4 linked regions of the Homo sapiens genome follow. The protein of the gene in region 4 interacts with the protein of the main gene of each other region in a pairwise test. Each region holds a gene or a part of one and is shown on either strand. Other genes may lie near its edges.

The links.
Region 1: the proteins of PBX4 (region 4) and SPANXN2 interact in binary tests that used the Homo sapiens proteins (3 or more experiments, as listed by UniProt).
Region 2: the proteins of PBX4 (region 4) and CLCNKA interact in binary tests that used the Homo sapiens proteins (3 or more experiments, as listed by UniProt).
Region 3: the proteins of PBX4 (region 4) and MIPOL1 interact in binary tests that used the Homo sapiens proteins (3 or more experiments, as listed by UniProt).

The regions. Positions count from the first base shown.
Region 1 is NC_000023.11:143,717,748-143,725,706, reverse strand, and holds the start of SPANXN2 (sperm protein associated with the nucleus on the X chromosome N2), read left to right. Parts: upstream 1-4,954; 5' UTR 4,955-5,038; coding exon 5,039-5,116; intron 5,117-7,959.
Region 2 is NC_000001.11:16,025,032-16,032,052, forward strand, and holds part of CLCNKA (chloride channel protein ClC-Ka), read left to right. Parts: intron 1-1,076; coding exon 1,077-1,216; intron 1,217-1,504; coding exon 1,505-1,582; intron 1,583-1,665; coding exon 1,666-1,744; intron 1,745-2,278; coding exon 2,279-2,404; intron 2,405-2,789; coding exon 2,790-2,874; intron 2,875-2,986; coding exon 2,987-3,088; intron 3,089-3,729; coding exon 3,730-3,814; intron 3,815-4,094; coding exon 4,095-4,268; intron 4,269-4,699; coding exon 4,700-4,769; intron 4,770-4,933; coding exon 4,934-5,044; intron 5,045-5,429; coding exon 5,430-5,643; intron 5,644-6,678; coding exon 6,679-6,812; intron 6,813-7,021. UniProt on the Homo sapiens protein: Anion-selective channel permeable to small monovalent anions with ion selectivity for chloride > bromide > nitrate > iodide. Forms a homodimeric channel where each subunit has its own ion conduction pathway.
Region 3 is NC_000014.9:37,543,923-37,550,943, forward strand, and holds part of MIPOL1 (mirror-image polydactyly gene 1 protein), read left to right. Parts: intron 1-2,982; coding exon 2,983-3,049; 3' UTR 3,050-7,021.
Region 4 is NC_000019.10:19,615,679-19,623,365, reverse strand, and holds the start of PBX4 (pre-B-cell leukemia transcription factor 4), read left to right. Parts: upstream 1-4,678; 5' UTR 4,679-4,736; coding exon 4,737-4,855; intron 4,856-7,687.

The sequences.
Region 1 (7,959 bases), on a different chromosome or scaffold from region 4:
TCTGTGTCTAGCTAATCTAGTGGGGACTTGGAGAACTTTTGTGTCTAGCTAAAGGTTTGTAAATGCACCAATCAGCACCCTGTCAAAACGGACCAATCAGCTCTCTGTAAAATGGACCAATCAGCAGGATGTGGGTGGGGCCAGATAAGGGAATAAAAGCAGGCTGCCCCAGTCAGCAGTGGCAACCCACTCAGGTCCCCTTCCACGCTGTGGAAGCTTTGTTATTTCGCTCTTCACAATAAATCTTGCTGCTGCTCACTCTTTGGGTCCACCCTGCCTTTATGAGCTGTAACACTCACTGCGAAGGTCTGCAGCTTCACTCCTAAAGCCAGGGAGACCACGAACCCACCAGGAGGGATGAACAACTCCGGACGGGAGGAACGAACAACTCCAGACGTGCTGCCTTTAAGAGCTGTAACACTCGCCACCAACGTCTGCAGCTTCACTCCTGAAGTCAGCGAGACCACGAACCCACCAGAAGGAAGAAACTCCAGACGCATCTGAACATCTGAAGGCACAAACTCCGGACACACCATCTTTAAAAACTGTAACACTCACCGCGAGGGTCTGCAGCTTCATTCTTGAAGTCAGCGAGACCAAGAACCCACTAATTCTGGACACATTGCTAGGCTGTGGAAGTTCTGCTGGATAATATCCTGAGAGTGTTTTCCAACTTGGTTCCATTCTCCCTGTCACTTTTAGGTACACCAATCAAATGTAGGTTTGGTCTTTTCACATAGTCCCATATTTCTTGGAGGCTTTGTTCATTCCTTTTCATTCTTTTTTCTCTAATCTTGTCTTCACACTTTATTTCATTAAGTTAATCTTCAATGTCTGATATGCTTTCTTCTGCTTGATCAATTCGGCTATTGATATTTGTGTATGATTCACAAAGTTCTTGCTCTGTGTTTTTCAGGTCCATCAGGTCATTTATGTTCTTCTCTAAACTGATTATTCTAGTTGTCAATTCCTCTAACCTTTTTTCAAGGTTCTTAGCTTCCTTGCATTGGGTTAGAACATGCTTTTTTAGCTCGGAGGAGTTTATTATGACCCACCTTCTGAAGCCTACTTCTGTCAATTTGTCAAACTCATTCTCCATCCAGTTTTGTTCTCTTGCTGGGGAGTTGTGATCCTTTGGAGAAGAAAAGGTGTTCTGGTTTTTGGAAGTTTCAGCTTTTTTGCCCTGGCTTTTCCTCATCTTCATGGATTTATCTATTATTGGTCTTTGATGTTGGTGACCTTCAGATGGGGTTTTTGTGTGGATGTCCTTTTTGTTGATGTTGATGCTATTCCTTTCTGTTTGTTTTCTTCTAACAGTCAGGCCCCTGTGCTGCAGGTCTGCTGGAGTTTGCTGGAGGTCCACTCCAGACCCTGTTTGCCTGGGTATCACCAGCAGAGGCTGCAGAACAGCAAATATTGCCGCCTCTTCCTTCTTCTGGAAGCTTCGTTCCAGAGGGGCACCCACCACATGCCAGCCGGAGCTCTCCTGTATGAAGTGTCTATAAATCCCTCCTTGGAGGTGTCTCCCAGTCAGGAGGCATGGTGGTCAGGGACCCACTTGAGGAGGCAGTCTGTCCCTTAGCAGAGCTCGAGCATTGTGCTGGGAGATCCATTGCTCTCTTCAGATCCAGTAGGCAGGAACGTTTAAGTCCGCTGTATCTGCGCCCACAGCCACCCCTTCCCCCAAGTGCTCGGTCCCAGGTACATGGAGTTTTATCTATAAGCCCCTGACTGGGGCTGCTGCCTTTCTTTCAGAGATGCCCTGCTCAGAGAGGAGGAATCTAAAGAGGCAGTCTGGCTACAGCAGCTTTACCGAGCTGGGGTAGGGTCCGCCCAGTTGAAACTTCCCTGCAGCTTTGTTGACACTGTGAGGGGAAAGCCACCTACTCAACCCTCTTAATGGTGGACACCCTTCTGCCCACCAAGCTGGAGCATCCCAGGTCGACTTCAAACTGCTGTGCTGGCAGTGAGAATTTCAAGCCAGTGGATCTTCGCTTGCTGAGCTCCATGGAGGTGGGATCTGCTGAGCTAGACTACTTGGCTCCCTGGCTTCAGCCACCTTTCCAGGGGAGTGAACGGTTCTGTCTCGCTAGCATTCCAGGCGCCACTGGGGTATGAAAAAAAAAACTCCTGCAGCTAGCTTGGTGTCTGCCCAAACGGCTGCCCAGTTTTGTGCTTGAAACCCAGGGCCCTGGTGGCATAGGCACCCGAGGGAATTTCCTGGTCTGCAGATTGCAAAGACCATGTGAAAAGCATAGTATCTGAGCCAGAGTGCACTGTTCCTCACAGCACAGTCCCTCACAGCTTCCATTGGCTAGGGGTGGGAGTTCCCTGACCGCTTGTACTTCCCAGCTGAGGTGACACCCCACCCTCCTTTGGCTTGCCCTCTGTAGCCTGCACCCACTGCCTAACCAGTCTCAGTGAGATGAGCCAGGTACCTCACTTGGAAATGCAGAAATCACCTGCCTTCTGCATTGATCTCGCTGGGAGCTGCAGACCGGAGCTGTTCCTATTTGGCCATCTTGCCAGCCACTCCCTTTAATTGTTTATTATTCATTTGGGTTGAAAATATAATTACTGAAGTTTTCAATAGGAGTTATTCTATAAAGTACGTTGTAATCTTTCAATAGAAATATGCACTAAATGTTTTCTTAACATTTGGATTAATTTTCCTTGGATAGTGATATACCCATTGAAACATTTTTGGTAAACAAATTTAGAAAACAATTTTAAAAGGTAGTAAGATGATTGAAAGCTGTTATTTTCAAAAATTGTAATCAGTTTCTGACTTACTGTGTTTGATGTGGCATATGCCTTTTGGTTTTCTGTTTGTTTTGTTTTCCATAACATGATATGACAGGGTGTTATTCTCACTGTTGATTGCAGGCAAGAGTACAAAAAATTATTAGAAGTTAGCTTGTGAGCATTTAATAAATGGAATTGTTGAACTATAGACAATGTCTGGGGTTCACTAAAAATGTATACCTTAATAAGAATCTTCTTTTGATTTGTTAATGTTTAGATGACAGTCATGAGAATGCAATAAATGCCTTGTGTCTGGAGGTCAGCGGGGTATCTTTCTAGGCCTTTCTTGTTTTTATGGTGTATAAAATAAAGTTATGTGAGCTTGATGAACACTGGAACAAAATTCCAGGGTCTACTTCTCGTTTGTCTTATTTTTAGATTTTTTTTTTCATTATCAGGTTTTGTGACTTCTTATAGAGAATGAGACAAGTGTCAGTCAACCTGTGGGAGAAATCCTGGGCCATGCCTTCTCTATTTTCAGTCCTCTTTCTTACTGTCTTTTAAAATATTTTTAGATTTTTATTTTGAAACAATTATAAATTCACAAGAAGTTTCAAAGATACGTACATGGAGGCCTTTTGTACCCTTCAACCAGTCTCTCCCAATAGTAAAATCTTCAATACACTACCACATTACACTATCAAAACTAGAACATTGACAGTGATGCAATCCAGAGCTTTTTAAGATTCAACACTTTTCTTTTGACTATTCTAGGCACTTTATATTTCCATAGGAATATTATAATTATCTTGTCAATTTCTATTAAAAAGGCTTTTTAGAATTTTGATTAGAATTTAGTTGAATCCACAGATGAAATTGGAAATAACTGCCATTTTACAATATTGAATCTTCCAACCGAAAATCAAAGTATAGATCTCAATTTTTTTCTTATGTCATTAATTTATCATTGTAAATTTTTGTAGTTTTAAGTGTACAAGTCATTTACATCTTTGGTCAGATTTATCCCTAAGCCTTTAATATTTTTAGTGATATTTTAAATTGCACTGTTCTTAGTTTCAACTTTCAGTTGTTGAAATTAACTTCCAGTCCACCCTAGGACTACCATTGGCTAAAACATTGTCTCTTCTAATATAGAAACTTCTCATATGTAACTGCTAATATATAAACATACAATTGATTTGTGTGTTGATCTCTTACTTTGCAATTTTGCTAACCTCAATTAATGTAGAACCATTTTTTTAGATTGACTTTTCTACATATACTCTCAGGTAGTCTTTGACAAAAGATACTTTTACTTCTCCCTTTCCAATCTGAATGCATTTTTTTTTCTTTTACACTGGACACAATCTCCAGTACAAAGTATAACTGTGCCCATACTGGTGCACATGTGGGTCTTAGATTGTAGCATCCTGCAGGTAAATACTCAGAACAACTTCCAGCACTTGAATATCCACTCCTTCCCCCACCCACATACTGGCAGAATTCATGTTGGGATACTACATTTACTATGAACATAGACCCCTGATTTGAAACAAGACTAGGATACATGGTAAAGAAAGTTTATTCACCAAAGTTTTGACAGACTGAAGGCCATTATTTCAGATTGGAGATAGGAAACTTAAAAGAACTACATGGACATTGGGTAAAAGAACATGGGTTGAAATTTGCCTGGCAGTAGCCTAAAAGTAAATGGTCTTCAAGGTGCATGTGAAGGAACTGTAGGAGGGAAATGGGATAATTCACATCTCCACCAATAATTAAATGTAGCCACACTAGCTTGGAGGGATTTGAGGTGAGACATCTAAAATACTAAGTCATGGTGAGGGCTGGAAGACAAAAGAATGAATGACTTCATAGGAATGACTGTGGGGAAGGGCTTGAAGGAATCATCCTCTCACTTCCATGTGAACCATGAACATTAAACATGGAGAAATGAGCAGCAGCAGATTAGTTTGGGATGCATCTTCAGGGGATGCTGAAACAACAACAGCATTTGGTTTCCTCTACACCCCTGTCATCCGTCCCCCACAAGCCCAGGGAGTGGTCAGCAGTGGTGCTTTGTGATGTCTAAGCCACCCTAGGACTGCCATTGGCTGGGACACTGCCTGTATGATCAAACAAAGCTCAAGAGTGTGGCTTTGCCTTGCCACCAGGAAGGTATACATAGGGAGGGCCAGAGCTCTGGGACATCCTCCTGGCAAGCTTCAATATAGCTGTGGAAGTCTGCAGTCTACAAGAGCCTACTATAGACATTCTACAACCAAGCAGAATCATGGAACAGCCGACTTCAAGCACCAATGGGGAGAAGAGGAAGAGCCCCTGTGAATCCAATAACAAAAAAAATGATGAGGTAAGATTGTTAGGTTTTGAAGGGAAGGTGAGGGTGAAAGAAAGACACACAGAGAAGGGACGGCTCAAACAGCAACACAGGAATACTGCAGACACCTGTGGAAGTGGGGGACCCGCTTAATGCCAGAACCCACCGCCGCTTACAGGCTGGGGTGCTTATAGGTATGGGTGGGAGGGGCCGGGGCAGTATGGCTTGCTGCCCGGCAGGATATTGATAAGATGTTTTTATGATCAGGCTGTTTGGTCCTTTTTCCAGTGGGATGTCATTGTGGTGTTTCTTGGAACTTTGCCCAGCAAGATACCATAGGAAAGTTTCTTTAGTTGGACCTGTGTCCGCCTTGTGTTACGACGATTAGGCAAGATTTTTCTCATGGCCCGAACCCCCGTGGAATGTTTCACTTTGATCAAGGTCTGCAAAATAGCAGGGTGCTTACTAAATGGTGGTTTGGACTCACATTCTTGCCTTCTACTTTAGTATAAAAGGAAGAGGGGCATTGTTGATTATCTGGCTGCTTGCTGCCGAATAGGGGAGCTGTAATCAGGGTTTGGGTTTTGAAGCAGGGGGTGACGGACTTCAGAGTTGTTTTCCTGGAGGCACTGGTACCGGACTTGGCAGAGGAGAAGGATGGTATCAATGTGTTGCTGGGTGGCTGCCTGGAGAGGGGAGTTTAGCCTTCGGGAGATAAAGCAGGATATGAAGGTGAGTATACATCGGCCAAATGTACTATCAGGAGGAGGAAGATTAACGGCCCTAAGAAAGGGACCACCTGCTATCCCAGTGCTGAGTGCATCAGAGATGTTTAGTTCTGCTAACACTAGAATGAGATGTACAGCCTGCTTAGTGTGTGTGGAGGAAGATGAGACAGAAGCTACTAAAGGAACCTGGATGGTCTGCTTGTTAGGCAAAGTGTTAATGTTTAGATTGAAACACAAGGGTGCATGTTCCTGACCAATTGGCCAGTAGGCAGAGATAAGAGTTTGTGCCGCAAAGGAAGAAGACACTAGGGGTGGACAGACAAAAGTTGTAGGTTATGGTGGCAAGTCATGAGAAGGTGGGGGTTGAATTCTGCACAAACCCTTTGTTTTAACTTTTATGTTTTTCCAAGTTGAATACCTGCCAGCAAGGGTAGCCCCTCTGAAGGCCTGATAGGAAATGTTGGTAGTGGAGGAGGTGAAGGCTGTTTGGTTTTGGAGAGAGAGCAGGAAATGGGTTTTTGTAACTAATAGCCATTGCGGTCCTGACAGCGCAGAAGGATACAGGTTGCAGTTGAGGGAATTGTTTGTGGATATTTTCCAGGGAGCGCCCTTGACTTGGATACATGGAGAGCGGCTCCGGCAGAAAGGGGAGGGGTTGATAAGAGGTATTTTCTGGAATCCGACTGGTAACATGTTTAGTTAAGAGGCTATGAGGTGAAGGAGGGTGACAGCCCTGTGTGTGACGGTGTGGGTGGATTTGATGGATTGGTGGGGGGGGAAAGGTGATTAGCCGAGCAAGATTATAAGCAGGTTTTGCGAATGAATTGGTCAATTAGGTGAAATGCAGGTTTATTTTGGACAGGGTTCATGTGGCCAGGTTAACAGGAAGGGCTGTGAACTACTGGATTTGTGTGGACAAACAAATTTAACAGTTGGAAGGAAGAGGGGAGTGTGACTGATTTAAGAGGCAGTGAGGCTGATGAAGGGGGCTCATCTGTTAGACGTTCGGGGTGGGGACTTAGAATATCCCACAGATAGAGAGGACAAAAGGAGAAAGAGGAGATTTGAGTAGGAGTGAAATTTTGGAAGGTGCCCTGAAGTCATATCTCCTTGATTAGTGTGACAAATTGGCCTGGACTATTCAGGGTCATGGGGAAGGGAAACCAGGAAAGATCTGAAATAAAGTAGGAGACAAAAGATTGGAAACTGGAGACAGAGAGTGTTATGGACTAAGGTGTTCTGGATTGGCAACTTCTGGAATTCTTGTTAAGTACAGTGAGGTTGGTCTTGTCAGGGAAGGAGAATAATTTGGGGGTGAACAAATTTCTAGATGTGGATCTGGTGCTCTTTTTAGTTTGAAATGTGCATTCAGTGTGCAAAGGATGTTAGCTTTGGCGCTGTGGGAGTAGTTAGCATCACCTGGTGAGAATTCCTCCACTTAGGTTGGAGAGCGGGGGAGGAGGAGTCTGTGATTCAGACCCAGCCCGCTGGTTGTAGGGACAGGGAGGAGTGTTTTGAGGATGGACTTTTAGGCTGGGTCAAGTAAGCATTTGCGTACTGTCTTATTAGATGTTGGGTGAGGTGTAACGCCGGCCAAGTATTCCATATAGAATGGGGGGAAAATACAGGGAGATTCTGGAGGATAAATGGAGCATTTGTACATGAATTTAAATGGGCTTAGGCTGAGCGCTTTTAGGAAATGACTCATAATCGCATGAGGAACAATGGGAGAAGTGAAGTCCAGGCCATTTTAACCTTTAAGGAGAGTTTGGTTAGTTGTTGTTTTTTATAAAATTTTTCCTGAAGATTCGGAGTGGTAAGGAATATGGAAAGCCCATTTAATGTTTAGAGCCTTTACCAGCTGTTGGTTAAACTGAAACAAATTGGCCCATTGTCTGACTGGATGCAAGAGGGGAGTTTAAACCGGTGGATAATATGGGTGGAGAGAATAGAAGCGATGGTGTGTGCCTTTTTGGTGGTGGTAGGAAAAGCTTTTATTCATCCAGAGAATGTATCTACTATTGTTAGAATGTATAGGAATCACTTTCTGGGGAGCATGTGAGTGATGTTGATTTGCTAGTCCTGCCCTAGTAAGTGTCCTCAGGTCTGGTGTGTGGGAAAGGAGATGGTTTGATAGCTTCCTGAGGG
Region 2 (7,021 bases), on a different chromosome or scaffold from region 4:
CAAGAAGGCCAGATCTTGACTCTTGGGTCACTGCTGGCCCTACTCGCTTTCCAAGGGCTCCTTGGAAGGAGATTGCCCTGTGGGGCCTGTGCTGGTGCCAGGAAGGGGCCCATGGAGGAGGTGCCGCTCCCTCAGGCCACTCAGCCCTTCCTCCAGCTCCAGGCCAGCAGAGGGGAGCTCCAGGCTCACTCAGTGGTGGCCTGAGGTTCTGTTCAGAGCTCCCCCATCCTGACACAGCCATCTGCCAGTCCCAGTGGGAGGAACGTGGACAACTCGCATTCCTCTCTGACTCTAGCATCCAAATCTGCAAAATGAGTTTATGCATCCTAACCTCTGAGGGTTCTGCGTGATCATAATAGGACTAGGTGCAGTGACTCAGTCTATAATCCCAGCACTTTGGGAGGTGGGTGGATCACTTGATCCCAGGTGTTCAAGAGCAGCTTGGACAACATGGTGAAACCCCATCTCTACAAAAAATAAAAAACAACCACCACAACAAAAAGTTAGCCAGGTGTGGTGGTGCCTGCCTGTAGTCCCAGCTACTTGGAAGGCTGAGGTGGGAGGATCACTTTTGAGCCTGAGGAAGTCGGGGTTATAATGAGCCGAGATCGAACCACTGCATTCCAGCCTGGACAATAGGGTGATACCCTGTCTCAAAGGAAAAAAAAAAATCATAATGTGAAAACACCGTGCGGGTAGAGTTATGAGAGTTTTTTTTGTTTGTTTGTTCGTTTGTTTTTGAGATGGAGTTTCACTCTTGTTGCCCAAGGTGGAGTGCAATGGCACAATCTTGGCTCACTGCAACCTCTGCCTCCCAGGTTCAAGCAATTCTCCTGCCTCAGCCTCCCAAGTAGCTGGGACTGCAGGCACCCGCCACCATGCCCGGCTAATTTTTTGTATCTTTAGTAGAGATGGGGTTTCACCATGTTGGCAAGGCTGGTCTCGAACTCCTGACCTCGCGATCCGCCTGCCTCGGCCTCCCAAAGTGCTGGGATTACAGGCGTGAGCCACTGCGCCTGGCAGAGAGTTTTAATCTAGAGATTGTCCCCTGCTTGTTCCTGTCCTGTCTGGCTAAGGTTCTGGAATCCCGGAGCTGAAGACCATGTTGGCGGGTGTGATCTTGGAGGACTACCTGGATATCAAGAACTTTGGGGCCAAGGTGGTGGGCCTCTCCTGCACCCTGGCCACCGGCAGCACCCTGTTCCTGGGCAAAGTGGTATGGTCAGGTGTGAGGGCACCCCAGCCACCCCGCCCACCCTACCCTGCCCCAGCTCTCCCCCATACCCCACCAAAGCTGGGTCAGAGCAGACTCAGGCCAGTGCCTGCCTTCAGGGAGCTCAGTCTTAGGGGAAGAGCCAGGCCAGGTCCCCAGTGTGACAAAAGCTACCTGAGGACAGCCCTGGGGGTTGGGGAGATGGAGGAGGGGGTGTGGTGGGGAAGCCGTGCTGCCTCGGGGTGAGACTGTCTCTGCTGCCCTCACCTGGGCCCACCCTTCCCTCTGCAGGGCCCTTTCGTGCACCTGTCTGTAATGATCGCTGCCTACCTGGGCCGTGTGCGCACCACGACCATCGGGGAGCCTGAGGTTAGGGACTCGGGGGCTTCCTTGGAGAAATGGGAGTGGGGAGGGAGGGGGCTGACTCTGAGCCCTGGACTCGGATCCCCCAGAACAAGAGCAAGCAAAACGAAATGCTGGTGGCAGCGGCGGCAGTGGGCGTGGCCACAGTCTTTGCAGCTCCCTTCAGCGGTGAGACCCCCCTCATGCCCCGCCCCCTGGGTCCCTCAAGCTCCTCCCCTCACACCCTGGGCTCCCTCGGCCCAGCTGAGAGCCTGGAGGAGGGGATGGGGCTCATTCTTGTTCTCACTTCAGCCCCGCTTTGGGTATAGCCACCCCCCGGGGGCGGCGGGGCGGGGCGGGTGGTTGGGGGCGTGGTTGGGCGGTGCTGAGAGGCTTCAGGATAACATTACACAGACTTGGGTTTGAAATCCACTGGCCCCTTGGCCTCTCTGAGCGCAGCTTCCTCCTCTGTAAAATGGGGATCAAACCGTTCCCACCCGATAGGGAGAGGGCGCACACCTGCATTCCAGGCTGGATGGATCCCTGGGCAGCGGGGTCCTCCCCGCCCAGGGCGCAAGCCCTGCCCTCCCCTTCTGTCTGTCCCTGTCCGGGCTGTAGGACAGCAGGACAGATGGCTCAGGGAGGAGGCGAGATGGGGGAGGGGGCCCTACAGCCACAGGTGGGTGGGGGTGGGGGCCCACCTGACATCAGTGTCGCCCCCAGGCGTCCTGTTCAGCATCGAGGTCATGTCTTCCCACTTCTCTGTCCGGGATTACTGGAGGGGCTTCTTTGCGGCCACCTGCGGGGCCTTCATATTCCGGCTCCTGGCAGTCTTCAACAGCGAGCAGGGTGAGCCCCCTGGGCTGCCTGACCCTGGCCCTGCCTGGGGGCCGGGGCGAGGGAGACCTCCCTTCTCCTCTGTGTACATCTCTTGCTCTTCCCTTCCCTCTCTCTCCCTCTTTTCCCTCCTCCGTGTTCCCACCTCCTTCAGGGAGGATGGAAGGGGCTGACCTGTGTTGAGCCCCTGACCTGTGTTGAGGGGCAAGGGGCCCTGAGGGTAGAAGGGATGAGGCTGGGCAGGGAGGCAAGAGCCTGGTTGTGGGGGCCTGGAATGCCAGGACACAGATTCCGAGTCAGGACCTGGCACCCCCTCCACCCTGGGCTGTTAGTCTGGGACTTGAGTTTGGGTCGGGTGGGAGCGCCATCTTGGCTCCCCACTGCCCTCCTTCCCCAGAGACCATCACCTCCCTCTACAAGACCAGTTTCCGGGTGGACGTTCCCTTCGACCTGCCTGAGATCTTCTTTTTTGTGGCGCTGGGGTGAGTGGGTGCCTTGGGCCCCTGAGAGTCCAAAAGGCATTCCCCCCAAGGCCTGGACTGCGGCCCCTGGTACTGGGGTCAGGCTCTGGTCTTACCTCCCTTCACCCCGCAGTGGCATCTGCGGCGTCCTGAGCTGTGCTTACCTCTTCTGTCAGCGAACCTTCCTCAGCTTCATCAAGACCAATCGGTACAGCTCCAAACTGCTGGCTACTAGGTAGGCTCTGGGCTAGGGGCTGGGGACATCTCAGTGAGTCCCTTGTGGACTCCAGACCTTATGTAGAAAGCCCCACCCCCATCCTCCCACTGAGCCCCTAAATCCCTCCCTAGCCCGTGGAGCATCTAACAACCCTCTCCAAGTCCCCACAGTCACTGTCCCCCCTTCCTTACTGGGCTACGAACCCCACATTGAACCCCCATCCCTCCTTCATTCTACAATCTCTCAGCGAAACCCCACCCCCTCACTGAGCCTCAAACCCTGTGCCCCTTCAAACCTTGTGTGGCCCCTGGCGTTGGCCTTGGCATTGGCCAGCCCTCCTGCCCCGGAGATGCACATGGCCCGCCCCGGCCCGGCCCACTGTCTCCTCCCTCCTAGCCTGCCTCTGCCCCAATTCTCCTCTCAATCTCCTGCGTGATTCCTCTGCCCTCAGTCATACCCAGTTGAGGGGCTCACCCCACGGGTTCTACCCGCTGGAGGGGGCCATGTTCCCTGCTCCCGCCCTTCCTCCTCACCAGTCCTTGCCTCGGTATCAGCCCCCAGGTGGGGAGCTCTGCTGCTGCCTGGACCAGGTCCTACTTCCCTCTCCTCGGGATGTAGGAAAGGGAGGGCCAGCCCTAGAGCTCACCCACCCCCCACAGCAAGCCTGTGTACTCCGCTCTGGCCACCTTGCTTCTCGCCTCCATCACCTACCCGCCTGGTGTGGGCCACTTCCTAGCTTCTCGGGTAAGGGGTCCTGAGCGGGGGTGGCAGGAGTGGGAACCCCCATTTGTTTTCCCCTTTGCATGTGTCTCACGTAATACCCTCAGCACCCCACCAGGGTGACACCTGGGCATCATTCTGCAGATAAGGAGACCATGGCTCTGGGAGGTCAGAGCCCTGCCCAAGGCCCCCCGCTGGGAAGTGGCAGGGGAGGATTCCAGGCGGGGTCAGGCGGTGCGGGGGAGGCTGGGGTCTGCCGCTGGGGGGGGCCCCTCATGTCCAGTTCCCACCTGCCCCGCCACAGCTGTCCATGAAGCAGCATCTGGACTCGCTGTTCGACAACCACTCCTGGGCGCTGATGACCCAGAACTCCAGCCCACCCTGGCCCGAGGAGCTCGACCCCCAGCACCTTTGGTGGGAATGGTACCACCCGCGGTTCACCATCTTTGGGACCCTTGCCTTCTTCCTGGTTATGAAGGTGGGCCCCCTGACCCCCAGGTGTGCACAGAGCCAGGACCAGCTCTGGTGGGGAGGGGCGGGGGTGCCTCCCTGCACCTGGTGGCATGGAGCCCAGGCCTCTCACCCACACTTCCTTCTGTGCCCCCTGCCCACTGCATGGTCCTGGATAAGTGGCTTCAGGTCTCTGGACCTCAGTCTTCCCATCTTTAAAATGGGGTGGTTACTGGGAAGGCAGAGAAGGAAGAAAGGAATGTACCTGGCACAGTGCCAGGCATACAGTGGGCATTTCTCAGGGTGAGGACCCTCCCCTAATGCCAGACTCTGGCAGTGGGTGCATGGCTGGCACCCTCTTTCTATCTAGGACACTCCCCTGTCCCCTGTCCTGTCTTCTCTTGTCCACACCTTGCCCAGCGGCCTCTAACCTCTGCCCTGGGCTCCCCCTTCCTGCAGTTCTGGATGCTGATTCTGGCCACCACCATCCCCATGCCTGCCGGGTACTTCATGCCCATCTTTATCCTTGGTGAGTCTGGGGTCCTGAGGTTCTGAGAGTTTTGGGGTTCTTGGGGCAGGGCCATGCATCCTGGTTCACCCTCTTCCCGGGTGGTACTAAGGATGGTCCTCAGGGATGGAGGGCTGTGGGGGCCGGGTCAGCCTGGCTCCCCCTCACCCTAAGTCTGTGGCCAGGAGCTGCCATCGGGCGCCTCTTGGGAGAGGCTCTTGCCGTCGCCTTCCCTGAGGGCATTGTGACTGGAGGGGTTACCAATCCCATCATGCCCGGGGGGTATGCTCTGGCAGGTGAGTGGGTCACGGCCCTGCTGGGTGGGCAATGTCGTGGGGCTGGGCTGGACCTGGAGAATTGGCTGGTGGTTCCCCAGGGCACGGAGCAGTCACTGAGTCCTCCAGTGAACCCCCTACCCCTCATGGGGGTCTGTCCCTCCTGAGCCCCACCATTCCCCGGGGCCCATCACTTCCTCGTGGCTCCTGTCCCCAGCCCTGCGGCCTCCCTTATCCCTCTCCTCTCACCAAGCCCAGGCCTTGGGGCACTTCCCACAGTGCCCAGGCTGTGGCCTCTTACAATTCCCACCCTAGCCCCCGGCAGCAGCCAGGCTAGTTATTCCCTCACATCAGGCTGGCCCCTGCCTCCTGGCCTGAGCCGACCTGTGTGGCTCTGCCCCGGCAGGGGCTGCAGCCTTCTCAGGGGCTGTGACCCACACCATCTCCACGGCGCTGCTGGCCTTTGAGCTGACCGGCCAGATAGTGCATGCACTGCCCGTGCTGATGGCGGTGCTGGCAGCCAACGCCATTGCACAGAGCTGCCAGCCCTCCTTCTATGATGGCACCATCATTGTCAAGAAGCTGCCATACCTGCCACGGATTCTGGGCCGCAACATCGGGTGAGTGGTGCCCACCTCAGGCTGACTGAAGGGGGTCACAGTGTTTGGGCTTGGCTGGGGGTGGAGGGCACCTCCAAAAAGAAACACCACCGCAGCTGACCTCCGACATGGGGGCTGGGAGGGGCTGACACACAGCTGTGCTCTCATCTCCACTCTCCCCAGTGCCCTGGGTGACCTTGGGCAAGTCCTTGGCCTTGAGGCCTCAGTGTCTGTCTAGGGGTCAGCTGGGCTTCACAGCAGGAGGATGAGTATTGCCCCGTGTACAGATTGAGGAAACCAGAGCTCAGAGAGGTGCCGTGTCTTGCTCCAGGTGACACAGAGAGTCAGCACCAGATCCGAGAGGTCTCCTCCCCTCTCCCCACTCCTGCTGTCCTTGCTGGGACTTTGGGAGCAGGAGGTGGAACGAGAATGGAAATGGGCTTTGAAGTCCTCACTCAACCAGATAGGACCAGAGCAGCTTCTGGCGCCAGAAAAGCAGACCAAAGAGGCTCTGAGAGTCCGAATCGGAGGCCCCGCTCCAAACACAAACAAGCTGCTGCCTTGCTCTGAACCTGTTTCCCCATCGGGAAAATGGGGCTGTTTATACCAGTGATTTTCAACCTTCCAAGTTTTTCCTTGGGGGTGACATACACTTTTATAATCAAATGGAATTATCCAGGGAAGGCTGCTGGGTCTGTACTCCAATCTCATTATTCATTAATGGATGGCCAGTCACTGACCACCTGGCAGATACTGGTTTTCCGTCATCTCACACTCAGCTCTGTCCAAGGTGGGACAAGACCCAAGTGAAGCTGGTCTGGGGGACATGGGGGACCAGGGGGTTGGGGATTTGGAACTGGGCCATCAGTAATGTGGTCCCCAGGTTTCCTCCCACTGTGGGTTCTAGGAGTCCCTCATTCCAGGAACCTCTCCAGCCCTGCTCACACTCCAGAGCCGTGGGTCCCTGGTTCAAGCAAAGCTCCCCTCAGATCCCCTTGCTGGCCTGGGTCTGACATCCCCGACTCCGGGACCTGATGGGAGCCCCTCTGCCTGCAGCTCCCACCATGTGAGGGTGGAGCACTTCATGAACCACAGCATCACCACACTGGCCAAGGACACGCCGCTGGAGGAGGTGGTCAAGGTTGTGACCTCCACAGACGTGACCGAGTATCCCCTGGTGGAGAGCACAGGTGCCCAGCTGGAAGGGAGGAGGAAGTCGGGGGTAGGGGATGCCCTCTGCCTCCTTCTTGAACCTGTCAGGCAGACAGGATCTGCATCCAGGCTCTGTGACTTAGCAACCAACCGTGTGACCTTGAGCAAGTCACTTCACCTGAGCCTCAGTTTCCTCATCAGCAAAATGGAAATCATGGCTACCCTCCCTTGGGGTGGTTGACATGTC
Region 3 (7,021 bases), on a different chromosome or scaffold from region 4:
TTTTAGCTGAAAGGTTGAGTGAGTGAATGGATGGCAACATTAATCAAGATAAGAAATACTGAAACATGCATAAGAAGTAAAATAGTTTTGTTTTAAATATACTGAGTATCATAGGCCAATTGTATAAGCAAGAGGAGATTTCTTGAAGGCAGTTGGATAAGTGAGTCTAAAACTCAGAAGAGAATTTTGAGAAAGGGGTCTAGATTTGGAAGTCATGAGCGTTTAAGTGTCATCAAGGGAGCAAAATGAAAAGAAAAGATGATAAAATACATCAACATTAAAAATACCAACAAAACAACAACCATAGTGATAAAAGAAACAAAAATCATATTTAAAGTCTTCTCATCCTTCTGACTGAGAGAGGGCAAGATCTTTAATACTAATGGCAAACCCTAGGTGCAGCATTTTTAGTGACTTTGTCTCCTCCTCCTCACAACCTTGTATAAGGGTTTACTTGTCTGTTCTTCAGTTTCTTCATATTTAAAATGGAGAAATCCTAATCCTAGCTCTAGCCCTTTTCCTGTTTCATGAAGCTGTTGAGAAGATATCACTGAGTAATATTTAAAGCAGCTGGAGCCTATTTTAGTGAGCTACATAATTTTTTAAGGACATTATTGATTTGGACAGTAAGAATAGCCTGCAGGCAAATCCTGCAAGGTGCTTCAACAGACACACACGTCTACCTTCCTGTTGGCACAGCCCATGTTTGGCAGGTGTATTCCATTCCTTACAGGAAGGAATAGGTGCTTCATTGTGTTACAGAAGTCAGTAAGCTTTCACAAAACTAAGTAATTGACATCTTTCTCATTTCTGAGATCAGGTTTTCATAAATCATTCGACCTGGATAAATTGAGATTGTAGTTGATGTGGTAATTGTTGAAATACAATGAGGACATTGCAAAACATGATATTTAACTATTTCCTCCTAATCTCTTACCTTAACAACATATAAGAGTTCTAAATGGAAAGATGTCCTAATGTAGAAAAAGGAAACAAAAGTAAGATGAGCCTGTCTGTAAAGGAGAAGCCAGAAGAAGCACAACACAGATTCATCTCAGTAATTTGGGATTCCACTGATTCTGAATTTGTAGTAACAATAATAATAACTAGACAACATAGAGCTGACTTTTATATTGTGAAAAAGGTTTTATCACTAGTTAGTAGTATAAATTATATTATGGAGAAGGGATACATTTAGCCAGTTTGCAAGTAATATTTTCTGGCTTTTAACAATATATGCAAAGCAATGCTACTAATATCTTATAATGATTTCTGCTGGGAGCTATTTAATGGTTATTTCAAGTTACTATCAGATTTTAACAATAAACTTAAAATTTCATAGTGTAGTTCTATAATTCATACTCACATTTTTCTTTCCCCTCATTGCACAACTCAAGTTAATTAAACATTGCCTTAAAGGATTCATGTAGTGCTATGAGTCATAATATTCAGAGTGTGTAAGTTAGCACTAGTTTTTAACCACTAGGGAAGGTTCAAGTATTGCAGACTAATCTGAGAATACAGTGAATTTTCTAATGACTCTTCTAGTTCAGGTATTTGTACCACTAGACTGTTTTAGTGGATATACAACATTTATGTATAGTTTGCATTTTAGAAAAGTTTGTAGTAATAAACTTAGACAAGATTTGCCTTTTTACTCTAAGATCATTACTGTGTTCTTAAAGCAAAGTTTTTTGATGCACTGAATAATTTTGTTTTATTTTCCTGTTTTTTGTTAACAGAATTCTTGATAGATACAAAATCATCCAATAAACTTCAGCTAGTTTTCAGCATTATATGCAGTTGATTTGTCCATTCCTCAGTGGAACTTCCAAATCATCTAAACCAGCTTTGTATGACACTAAGAATACCCTCATTCCTTCAGTGTCTAGCTCTGTGCTGTGTTTATTTGCAGAGGACCCTCATGCATGGATCCATATAAATGAGGCAAACTGTGAAGCAGACTAGACTGTGCCGCTTACCGTAAAGTCTTTGAGAGAGGAAGATTGTGTATATGAAAACTGCTAGGCATGATATTTACTTATAAGGAAGATTTCTATGTGTATAACATCAAGCAAGATTTTTGGTTGAGGTTTTATGCTTTCAGTAAAGAAAATAAAAGAAGAAAACCAATTAATGGTCTGATTCTATCATCTTTTGTCAAGCATCTCTTACTGATCTACATGAATGTGACCTCCCGCTCATAGAGTAGTCTAAGAACACTGCAGAATGGACTTGTGAACTTTCGACTCTCTTTTCAATTTAATTGACTAGTTTTTAGTCAACTAAAAAAATCATTTTCTTTGACTAAAATGTCTATGTAGGTAATTTCTAGTGCATCTATGCTACTCAGAAATAGAAACGTGTTTTTTTAATTAGAACAAAAAGTCTGGTTTTATTAGTATCAAATCATTGTGTATTTTTAAATTATTTCCATGCTACTGTAACTTGAAATGTTTCCCACCTAACCACTATTTCTGGCTTTATGTTTATCAGCTGATTCTATGAAAAGATGGGAATTTAGTACATAGAAGTTACACAGTATACCAACCAATGAATCACTTATCTAAGTAACAGGTGAAACATTGCTGATATTTGTGTTTTGAAATATGTGCTTTTCTTAGGTAAAATCAGTTTATTCTACATTTAATATGTGATCCTGTCATTGCATAGTAAATGATTCATTCACAACCTTAATGCAAGTAGCTAAATGTATTGAAATAAGTGTCCTATAAATTTTGTGTGGCATCTAATGCTGACATAATTCAAGGATCTGGGTTAAAGTTTGTGTCGTTGCTGGGTTTTTTAACCTCAAATACTTGGCACTCTGTAGCAGTGTCTCTCACAGTAATGCTTTGTTTCTTAACATGACCGTGAGGACTGCTTGGTCACAGGCAAATACTGTCCTTTATCAGCCAGGACATTCTTAACAATAATTGCCCTTTTTTTCCCCTTCTCACCCCCATCCCAACCCCAACTTAGGTTGGAAAGGCTGGTGGATGTACTGAGGAAGAAGGTTGGAACCGGGACCATGAGGACAGTGATCTGATTGAAAAAAAACGACAGTCTGGGGAAGCGATCACATCTGGTGACCAGGCTGCTTCATTCAACACTGTGTAAACACCAAAGCCTTAACTTAGCAAACAGTTGTTAGAAGTGGGACACTCCAACCACATTCCAAGCTGAGATAAAATCAAATCACAAATGTTTAACCACTTTGCTGCTGACTTGAGTTATTTATCCAAATATATTAACTATAGACTTTTACCAATGGGTAGCTATAAGGTTACAGCTTATTTTGTAACTATTTTATATCTCAATATCTTTAATATAAATCTTTTTACTGAGAGATCATTATAGAAACATGTTAAAGTTGGTTAGGATCATATCTTCACATATGGCCCTTTCTGAATCAAAGTGCGGCAAAGTAAATATTGTCTAAGCTTTAATCCACTGTGTTAGGTCAAAACTTCAAATACATGCATTTTTCAATATAGGGTATATTTCTTAACTGATGAGAGAGGCTTAGACATGAGTGTGTAGTCTTCCTTCAATGCGTGTATGTAATCTTTGTTAGTATAAAAGATATTAAATATAGGTGCCAAGAATTAAATGTATAATTTGTTTAATAAGAGATGGATATATTAAAATTACATTCATCAAGGCATGATTTTTGTTTCACTACAAATAATGCAAACTGTTTTCAATAAAAAGAGGAGACTGTTAATGTGTACTTATAAATTCACATTGTCAGTATTTTTTAATATTGGGTCTGAATAATTATCTGAATTCTACTTAAGCTATAAGTCTCTGTCATTTTTGCTTGAAAATTAGCATGCCTCTGTCTTAAAAGAGACCATCAAACCTATTAAGTATTCTTATTGTTTATCTTTTTTTAATTGCCATTTGATTTTTATTGTGGAGGAGGAGGATCTAATATATAATATTCAATACAATTGTAATGTAGAAATATAAGAATTTAGAAAAAAGTAAACTTGCCATTTGGTTAAGGTTACCTGCTTTTTATTTTATTCCAGAAATAAGATAGTTACAGCATAGCAGTCATATGAAGTTATGAATAGAACTGAGATTTTTATGTAATTAGTTATAGGCAAAATACTTTCATATTTTTAGATTAGACAGACGAAAGACCAAGAGGAAATGACTGTGCCTGGAACAGGATGAAATAGACAAGTAGAGATTTAATTAGCAAAAATTTTGTAGGGAAGTAAAATTTTTTCTAAGTCTATACGTTTTTAATTCATCTTTAAGATTGAGCTAAATTATCTACCATTGCCTATTTACAGGATAAGTACATTCAGGACAATTTATTGTACCATTCTTTCATATACCATAGCAGATTATCCATTTCAATTTTTTTTTACTCCACAGGAAAATGTAAGCTACTTTGTCATAGATCACAAAAGAATCATAATGCTAACAAACTCTATTTCTTCCTTATTAAATCTGTATCCATTAAAGTAACTTTTTTAACTATGAGAATTAGAAAATAAGGGACAACAGGGGTTAAAAATAAACTGATTTAATTTGCTCTATAGTCCTAAAGAGAATTATATCCTCTCATAGACCAATGACTCTATAATAGAGAAATATGTAATGATTTGGTCATGCATGGAGTCTTGTCTCTGGGCTCTATTTGAAACGTGTAACAGCTCCCTATGTGAAGAAACATTATCTTTAAAGTCATCTGGGAGGTGCAGGTAAGTAAAGAGAAACAATTTTTGTCACAAAGTAGTCCATTCCTGATCTCACTTAAAATAAATCACAAGTAAATTTGAATTTTCGGTTTAATGTTGAAAGCAGATGAACTTTTCTTGAGTTATTTTGTCTTTTAGAATACACAAAATATAGTATAAAGACATTTCACAATTTCCAAACAAATCTTTCTACGCTTAAATGATCAAATTAGAAAAACCAATTCCTATAATTAATATGCAGAACTTTTATAGAATATGATATTATAAAGTTAAATTTGCAAAATAATTCTAACATCCACTATTGTTCAGTATAGGTAATCTCCCAAAAATATCACATCCTCTTGAAAATGAATTGTCTACAAAATTTCAAATGCAAAGTATTACAGCCAAATATTATCTTAATTAATTTCTTACACTTAAAAGTGTCCATCAACAGTGTGTCAGATGGTCTTTATATATTTTTTCTGTATGAAGGAATAGCCTTGCCTACTGAAGATAGGTTCTCTATGTATTCAACAATAATGCAACTTTAGAAGTATTCCACACTGCTGAGAAATGTTGCTTTGAGTTTGCTTTACACATCATCAACTCTAAATCCTATAGTAACATGAGAATTCACTTCTTCTTGTAAAAATAAGTAATTTACAGGAAAGGCAAAATGCTAATACTAACATTTGTAGCACTTGATGATTTACAAAGTCCTTTTACATCTGTTTTTTCATTTGATCCTATCGACAATCATAATAATAATAAATTATATATATAACCCATATAATAACGATGGTGATGATAATTTTAGTATTACTGTCATTATAATTATTATTATATTCATTCTACAGATGAGGAAACAGACTCAGTAAGCCTTGGAATTTGCCAAGGACTGGCTAGGACCTAGAACTAAGATCTTATAACCACACTCCATGCAACTATGAGTCTCTAAATCTCTCTGTAAGAAAAAAATTTCAAAGTAAAGATTTTACTCTTGCAATTTCTGTTGTGATAGTACCATCTCTTTCACATACTACATACAAATTCCCTAATAATCAAAAGATTGTACACATTTTTTTCAATGAAGTACAATAATGTGAACTGCATGTGTAAACAGCATCACATTATTACCACCTCTCTATGGTATTATAGTGGCAGTATGCTTTGCCTCAGCCTTCACTAATTAGGAATATTGTGACAATTCATTGCTAATAAAACATAACATGAGTCTCTTTGTACTGTTTTTAATTTGGCCTGATGCTAAAACCTATCAGCTTAGTTTTTTAACATGGTAGTCTAAACTTCAAGGCTTGCTCTATCTCCTAGAGCAATTTAGAGCTAAAACCAGTAATAAGCAAAGTTATTGGTTATAAGCAAGGTATAAGCAGTTAAAGCAAAGTTATTAATTATTAATATATGAGAATTTAAAATTTTATAAATAAGTTAGAAATTATTAATGTATTTTAAATATGGAGTAAAATATTTTGCTAATTTTTTTCAATGATAAAGTTGATCCTTTGTATATTTCCTTATTCAAATAAATTCAGTCATCTTCTTATCAGGTTGCTTATTTATATAATTTGTTTATTTTATTAAAAATCTAGAATATTAAAGATTTATACTTTTAATATTGAATATAGTTTCGTAGAAAAACATTTTATATGTACTATTCTTAAAGATCACAATTATTTTTAAACTTTCTATTTTCAAATACTTGTGATTAATAAGGCATTCTATGATGAAATAGCCATGGCTTATATATTTTTGTCTTTTCACATATGATGTGTTTGGAACCCAAATTTTTTACTGATTTTATTGTGTTGTTGGTAACTAGTATTTACAGCTAACCTATCTATTCATATTTTACATATATATATATATATATACATGCACACACACCGATACATTTACCTTTTAAAAAAATGATTTATAAGTGAACTGTTAGGCTCCAGTGATTTCAGTGTTTTGTTCATGTTTTATTGGAAATGCACGTGGTTTCTTAGGCTTTTAAACAAATACATGGAATGGTTGAAAGATTTATTTTGCTCGTGCTTAGCTAAATATGTCATCTCTAGAAAAGATGTGGTTTGTTTTGGCACTGTTTTAAAAACTCAAATATTTTAAACATTTGTTAAGTTGGAGCTTGCACATTTAAACCAGCAGCATACGTTCCAGAAGAGCATCTCAAGTTACCAAATTTTTTGTAATCCTTTTACTAGAAAAATCTTTTTTGAAGAGTTTTTCTTGTGCTTGCTTCGGCAGCATATATACTGAAATTAGAAAAAGAAAACTTTTCTTTTTTATTATATATTTTA
Region 4 (7,687 bases):
CGTGCCACCACGTCCAGCTAATCTCTGTATTTTTATTTTTATTATTTATTTATTTGTTTGTTTATCTTTGAGAGGGAGTCTCGCTCTGTCACCCAGGCTGGAGTGCAGTGGCTTGATCTCAGGTTACTGCAACTTCTGCCTCCTGGGTTCAAGCGATTCTCCTGCCTCAGCTTCCCGAATAGCTGGGTTATAGGCATCTGCCACTACACTCGGCTAATTTTTGTATTATAGTAGAGATGAGGTTTCACCAATGTTGGCCAGGCTCGTCTCAAACTCCTGACCTTGAATGATCCACCCACCTCAGCTTCCCAAAGTACTGGGATTACAGGTGTGAGCTACCGCGTGCCTGACTAATCTTTATATTTTTAGTAGAGATGGGGTCCCACCATGTTAGTCAGGCTGGTCTCGAACTCTTGACCTCAAGCGATCCACCTACCCACCTTGGCCTCCCAAAGTGCTGGGATTATAGGCATGAGCCACCACGCCTGGCCCCTCTCTCTTACTGGGGTCTTGAATCTGTTTCTCTCTGCTTCTGTTCTTTGTTTCCCCCATCTGTTGCTCTGCCTCCATCTCACTGCCTGTCTCCCTGTCTTTCTCTGCAGCTCAGAGTAGTGTCTGGACCCTATGAGCCCCCTCCCTCCCCACTGCCCTTTTGTTTGAGCCCTGATGGTTCAAGGTCACGTGCCCAGCCGTTTCTATCCCATTCCCCACCACCTGTATTCATACTTCCAGCCACAGGTTGTGGGGTTCAGGTAGTGGGATGCAGGATTTGAGCATGACCATTTCTCAAGCTCTTCTGATGTGCCTGGCATACTGGTAAACACTTTAGGTGCTTTTTTTTTTAAATTTTTTATTTTTTTGTGATGGAGTGTCACTCTGTCCTCCAGGCTGGAGTGTAGTGGTGCAATCTCGGCTCGCTGCAACCTCCGCCCCCGGGTTTCAAGCGATTCTCCTGCCTCAGCCTCCCAAGTAGTTGCGATTACAGGCACCTGCCACCGTGCCCGGCTAATTTTTGTATTTTTGTTAGAGATGGGGTTTCACCATCTTGGCCAGGCTTATCTTGAACTCCCGACCTTGTGATCCACCCGCCTCGGCCTCTCAAAGTGCTGGGATTACAGGCATGAGCCACTGTGCTGGGCTTTTTTTTTTTTTTTTTTTTGAGACGGAGTCTTGCTCTGTTTCCCAGGCTGGACTGCAATGACGTGATCTCAGCTCACTGCAACCTCTGCCTCCCAGGTTCAAGTGATTCTCCTGCATCAGCCTCCCGGGTAGCTGGGATTACAGGGATATGCCACCACACCCAGCTAAATTTTTTATTTTTAGTAGAGATGGGGTTTCACCATGTTGGCCAGGCTGGTCTCGAACTCCTGACCTCAGGTGAGCCGCCCGCCTCAGCCTCTCAAAGTGCTGGGACTATAGGCGTGAGCCGCCATGCCTGGCCTTTTTTTTTTTTTTTTTTTTTTGAGACAGAGTCTCACATGATCTCAGCTCACTGCAACCTCCGCCCCCTCCAGGTTCAAGCGATTCTTCTGCCTCAGCCTCCCAAGTAGCTGGGACTACAGGCATGCACCACCATGTCTGGCTAATTTTTTGTATTTTAATAGAGATGGGATTTCACCATATTGGCCAGGCTGGTCTTGAACTCCTGACCTCATGATCCGCCTGCTTTGGCCTCCCAAAGTGCTGGGATCAGTCTTTCTGATTTTTATGTGAGAACACTGATTCAGACAGGTTGTGATCTGGCCCATGGTAAACACAGCTTGGAGATGGCACATACAGGCCCCGAGGGACCAGAGAGGCCCCTAGGAAAGGGACTTCAGATTCCCACGAAGCCCAGGGTTGGTCCCAAGCTCAGCTGGGCTTTCCCTACCTCACCCCACAGCACCCAACCCATGAGTGCCAGATCCATCATGAGCCCCCTCTGAGATGCTCAGGGAGGCCCCCTCCAAGGCACAGTGTGTGCCAGGATGTCATTCTCTGCTCCCACCTCACCAGTGAGGAGGTGGGGTTATGTCCCTACTTTTGAATCCCATGCTGAATAACAGCTAGAATTTGAACCCAGGTCACTCAGAGATGTGAGCCGCCATGCCCAGCCACCTGTGCCAAATTCTTAAACCACTGAAATATGCATTGTCAAAGAACCCAAAACTCCCAGGTCCTTCTATATTAAATGGCCCTGGCCGAGCACTTTGAGTGCCAAGGCTGCCAACTAATTTCTATGCAGTAGAGACCCCTGATGACCTCCAAATGGCAACAGTGGGACGGGTGAGGTGGCTCATACCTGTAATCCCAGCACTTTGGGCGGCCGAGGCAGGCAGATCACCTGAGGTCAGAAGTTTGAAACTAGCCTGGCCAACATGGTGAAACCTCATTTCTACTAAAAATGCAAAAATTAGCCGGGCGTGGTGGTGGGTGCCTGTAAGCTACTCAGGAGGAGGCTAAGGCAGGAGAAGTGCTTGAACCCAGGAGGTGGAGGTTGCAGTGAGCCAAGGTCACGCCACTACACTCCAGCCTGGGCAACAGAGTAAGATTTCTGTCTAAAAAAAAAAAAAAAAAAAAAAGGCAACTCTGTCTCAGGCGCTCTGAGCTGGCTGTTCACATCAGCTCCTCCAGGTTTTAACCTGCACCCCGTGGGTCTCCTTCGAGACCATTTCCTCTTGTCGATCTCCCGTCTCCACCAAGTGGCTTCAAATTTTTGTCTCTGCTGGTCCCTGAAGCTTTCAGTGCCCACCCCTCCAAGTTCTCTGAAGGATACTACTTTGTTGGGGTTGGGGGCAGGTTTTGCTCTCTCACCCAGGCTGGAGTGCAGTGGCACAAACACAGCTCACTGTAGCCTCGACCTCCTGAGCCCAACTTATCCTCCCGCCTCAGCCTCCCAAGTAGCTGGGACCATGACCAGCTAATTTAGCTATTTTTTTAATTTTTATTTTTGTAGAGATGGGGTCTCACTATGTTCCCCAGACTGGTCTTGAACTCCTGGGCTCAAGTAATCTCCCACCTCAGACTCCCAAAGTGTTGGGATCATAGGTGTCAGCCACTGCACCCAGCCTGAAGGCCACTACTGTTCAGGCCTCCTGGGCAGTGCTGTGCTTGTGGGTGACCTTTTGAACAGGCACTGGTCTCCGTGGCTCCCATGCAATCTATTACTTTCTGTCATTGGAGCCAAGTGTCGGTTTCCTTCATCAGAGAGCTTTCCCTATTGTCCAGACACTCGGTCAATGTCTTTCATTTTTCACTCCCTGCCGTCCCCTTTGGAGTCTCCCGACGCTCTCCAATCCAGCCATACCAGATGGTGTTTGAATTTCCTCCCCAGCAGCAATGGAGAGAACGTGGGCCCCACCCTGGAAGGGCTCCCAGCCAGCAGGCTGAGGACCTTTTACTGAGCCCACATCTGGAGACTGTCCTCATAGCAAATAGGCTCCAGGAGGTTCTGTGACTTTGGAGAAGAGATTCATGTCCAGGCCATTACTTTTTTTTTTTTTTTTTTTTTTTGAGACCTGGTCTCCGTCAACCAGGCTGCAGTGCAGTGGTGCAATCATGGCTCACTGCAGCCTCAAATTCCCAGGCCCAAGTGATCCTCCCACTTCAGCCTCTCAAGTCCCAAATAGCTGGGACCACAGGCGTGCACCACCACGGGGTCTCACTATGTTGCCCAAGCTGGTCTCAAACTCCCGTGCTCAAGTGATCCTCCCGCCTCTGCCGCCCAAAGTGCTAGGATTACAGGCATGAGCCACCGCCCAGTTCCTTTTCTTGTGCACTAGGAGCCTTCGATGCTGTGTCCTAAGGACTAGAAACAAAGATGTGAGGATTCGCTCTGATTTGGGGTACACTGCAGGGGAGTCTCTCAGTAAACATCCTTCCTTCATTCGGTAACCACGTGGTAGCATTTTCTATGCCCAGAACTGTAATCTGCGAAGATGAATAAACAAGCGAGGTCACTCTTCAGCTGGACCTTGAAAGGTGACTGGAATTGATTTCTGCAGTGGAGAAAAGCGCTGCGTTCTGACCTCCTCGTTGCCATCAACCACGCACGCCTGCGCCCCGCCTTAGCCAGGTGAACGGGGCGTGGAAAGCTCTAGAGGAAGAGCCAGGGGCCCCAGTGGCCCACCTGATGGGGCTGAGGATGCAGGGAGCATTAGGGGGACTGAGCAGGGGTCTGGGGCTTGGGGCTTCTGGAAATGAATGGGGGCTGTCGATCAAGCTATAAGAGGTGTGGGGTTCTGAGGAGGAGGGGGTGGCTTGGAGGAAGAGTTGGGGTGCTCTGGGGAGTGAGGGTCTCTGAGGACCGAGGGCTTTGAGGAGAAGGGGGCCCTGAGGAGGAGCAGGAACTCTGAGGAGATGCGAGTGGGGCTGAAGGAGGCGTGCACCGCGCGAGATGTGAGGGATGGGGGCCTCTGGCTGGAGCGGAGCCAGCGCTGCCCTCTCTCAAGGGGAAGGAGGGCGCTTATGAGAAGTGCCGTTGCCTCGGCAACCCCAAACCCAGTCCAAGCCCGGAGAGGGGGAAGTTCGGGGCGAGTCCCGGGGGCGGTGCGTGGCGCCGGTTGGCTGACGGAGATGAAGGGGCGTGTCTGTAGGCGGTGCAATACACGGGTTGGCTGGCGATAGCGGCGGTGGGCGTGGCTTAGGCGCGAGCGAGAGCGGGCGCGGCGCTCAGGCAGCGGCGGTTGGCTGCGGCGCCAGTGGTAGTGCTCCAGGCTCGACGGCACCCTCACAGCGCCCGCCCGGCCCTGCCGCTCATGGCCGCCCCGCCGCGCCCCGCGCCATCGCCCCCCGCCCCGCGGCGCCTCGACACGAGCGACGTCCTGCAGCAGATCATGGCCATCACCGACCAGAGCCTGGACGAGGCACAGGCCAGGTGCTGCCCGCGGGCTCGGCAGGGGCCACGCAGGGTCGTGGCAGTGAGGTTGGCGGGCTGAGGGGACGGGGCGTGGAGGCCAGACTGACGAGGGGCGCTTGAGGAGGGCTGGAGGGGGGTCCCGAGGACGAAGGGATGTATGGGGTTCAAACGGAACGGGCTGGATAGGCCTTATGGGGCCGAGCAGTGGCGTGAAGGATTTTCAGCAGCTCATCTTGGGGCGAGAAGGTTGGGTTTAGGGGTTTAGGGAGTAGGGCTGAGAAATGGGCACGTACGGGACTTTTGACGAGTGAATGACTAAATGGGTACGTTAATGGGACTCCTGCGGCTGGAAGTTTTTTTGTTGTTGTTTGACACGGTCTTGCTCTGTCGCCCAGGCTGGAGTGCAGTGGCGTGATCATGGCTCACTGCAGCATCCACCTCCCCGGCTCAGTTGATTCTCCTGCCTCAGCCTCCCGAGTAGCTGGGACCACAGGCGCACGTGCAACCACGCCCGGCTGATTTTTTTGTATATTTTGTAGAGACAGGGGTCTCGCTATAGTTGCTTAAACTCCTGGGTTCAAGCACTCATTCCGTCTCGGCCTCCCTAAGTGCTGGGATTACAGGCGCGAGCCACCGAGCCCGGCCTGTGGGTGGGAAGTTTCCAGGGCAGATGATGGAGAGTGAGTGGCTGGGAATGGGACTCAGGAATGTCTGCAGGAGACTGAAGAACTGAACTGGGGTAACTTGGTGTGGGAACCATCGAGAACTTTTGGGAAAAGGGTTAGTAGAGGAGTGGGTGGAGATGGAAGACCTATTTTCTTTTTAATGAATTCAGCAAATTTTTATTGAATCCTTACAATAACTGGATAGGGAACCGGGTGCTGACATAGTCCCTGCTCTCGAGTACATGATTTAGGGGAGGGAATGTAAATAGCAAAAAATAAGGACTGGGTGGAGTGGCTCACATCTCTAATCACAGCACTTTAGGAGGCTGAGGCAGGAGGATTGCTTGAGCTCAGGAGTTCGAGACCAACCTGGACAATGTAGTAAGACCTCGTCTCTACTAAAAATAAAATTAAAAAATTAGTTAGGTGTGATGATGCAAGCCTGTAGTCCCAGCTACTTAGGAGGCTGAGGCTGCAGTGAGCCGAATCAAGCCATTGCACTCCAGCCTGGGTGACAGAGCTAGACCCTGTCTCAAACAAAAGCAAAAAAGTATAAGCCAGGCATGGTAGCATGGGTAGGTAATCCCAGCTGCCTCCCAGTGGGAGGATCACTTGAGTCCAGCAGTTTGAGACCAGCCTGGGCAACATAGTGAGACCATCCTGTACCAATCTGAGAAAAGAAAAAAATAAAATAAATGGCAATAAAAGCTGTAGGGATAGGGGTTGCATGCTATAGGAAGCCAGGTGGAGAAGAACATCTTTGGAGAGGACAGCACCTTCAGAGGCCCTGAGGTGGGAAAGAGGATGTAAAAAGCGGAGTCTGGCTGGGAAGAGAAAGTTCCTAGCCAGGGAGGGAAAGAGTTGAGTTTAAAGGAAGGCTGGGGCCAGGTGCGGTGGCTCACGCCTGTAATCCCAGCACTTTGGGAGGCCAAGGCAGGTGAATCACGAGGTCAGGAGTTCAATACCAGCCTGGCCAACATGGTGAAACCCAGTCTCTACCAAAAATACAAAAATTAGCTGGGTGTAGTGGTGCACACCTATAATCCCAACTACTTGGGAGGCTGAGGCAGGAGAATCACTGGAACCTGGGAGGCGGAGGCTGCAGTGAGCCGAGATCACACCACTGCACTCCAGCCTGGGCGACAGAGCGAGATTCCGTCTGAACAAAAAATAATAATAATAATAAAGGGAGACTGGAACCCAATTACATGGGGCCTACGAATCTCAGTAAAGAGTTTTGTTTGTTCAGCCAGGCACAGTGGCTGACACCTGTAATCCCTGCACTTTGGGAGGCCAAGGTGGGCAGATCACCTGAGGTCAAGAGTTCGAGACCAGCCTGGCCAACATGGCAAAACCCCATCTCTACTAAAAATACGAAAATTAGCTGGGCGTGGTGGTGCATGTCTATGGTCCCAGCTACTTGGGAGGCTGAGGCAGGAGAAACACTTGAATCCAGGAGGTGCCTGGGTTCAAGCGCCACTGCATTCCAACCTGGGCGACAGAGTGAGACTCTGTCTCCATAAAAAAATAGTTTTGTTTTTGTCATCTGGATAACAATCAATAGGGAGTTCGGACTATTTATTCCAGTTGCAATGGGGAAAAATAAAGGAGTTTTTAGACCTCCCATCCCGTTTACCTCCACTCACCACTTGTCAGCCAGCCAGGATCCGTAGAATCTGCTTCACAAGGCAGCCCACTGTGTCTGGGTCCTGCAGTGATTATTACAGAAAAGGAAAGGAAAGGACTGAAGTCCTTTTGGAGGATGAGGCCTTGTTGAATGGGGACTGTTGTAAGGTGAGGGACGGTCTCTGGGTATGGGACTAGGGTCTGGTGGTGTGGACTGTGTACCCACTAGAGCCCTGTAGTGGGGAGGGGTTACAAAGCCAGGTAAACAGCAGTCCTAGGAAGGAAGAGGCAGATAAAAAGGTGGATAATGCATGCATTTGTTCTTCAATGAATTGTGTGTGTGTGTGTGTGACGGACTCTCACTCTGTTGCCCAGGCTGGAGTGCAGTGGCGCTATCTCGGCTCACTGCAACCTCTGCCTCCCGGGTTCAAGCGATTCTCCTGCCTCAGCTTCCTGAGTAGCCGGGACTACAGGCATACGCCCCATGCGTGGCTAGTTTTGTATTTTTAGTAGAGATGGGGTTTCACCGTGTTGGCCAGGCTGGTCACAAATTCCTGAC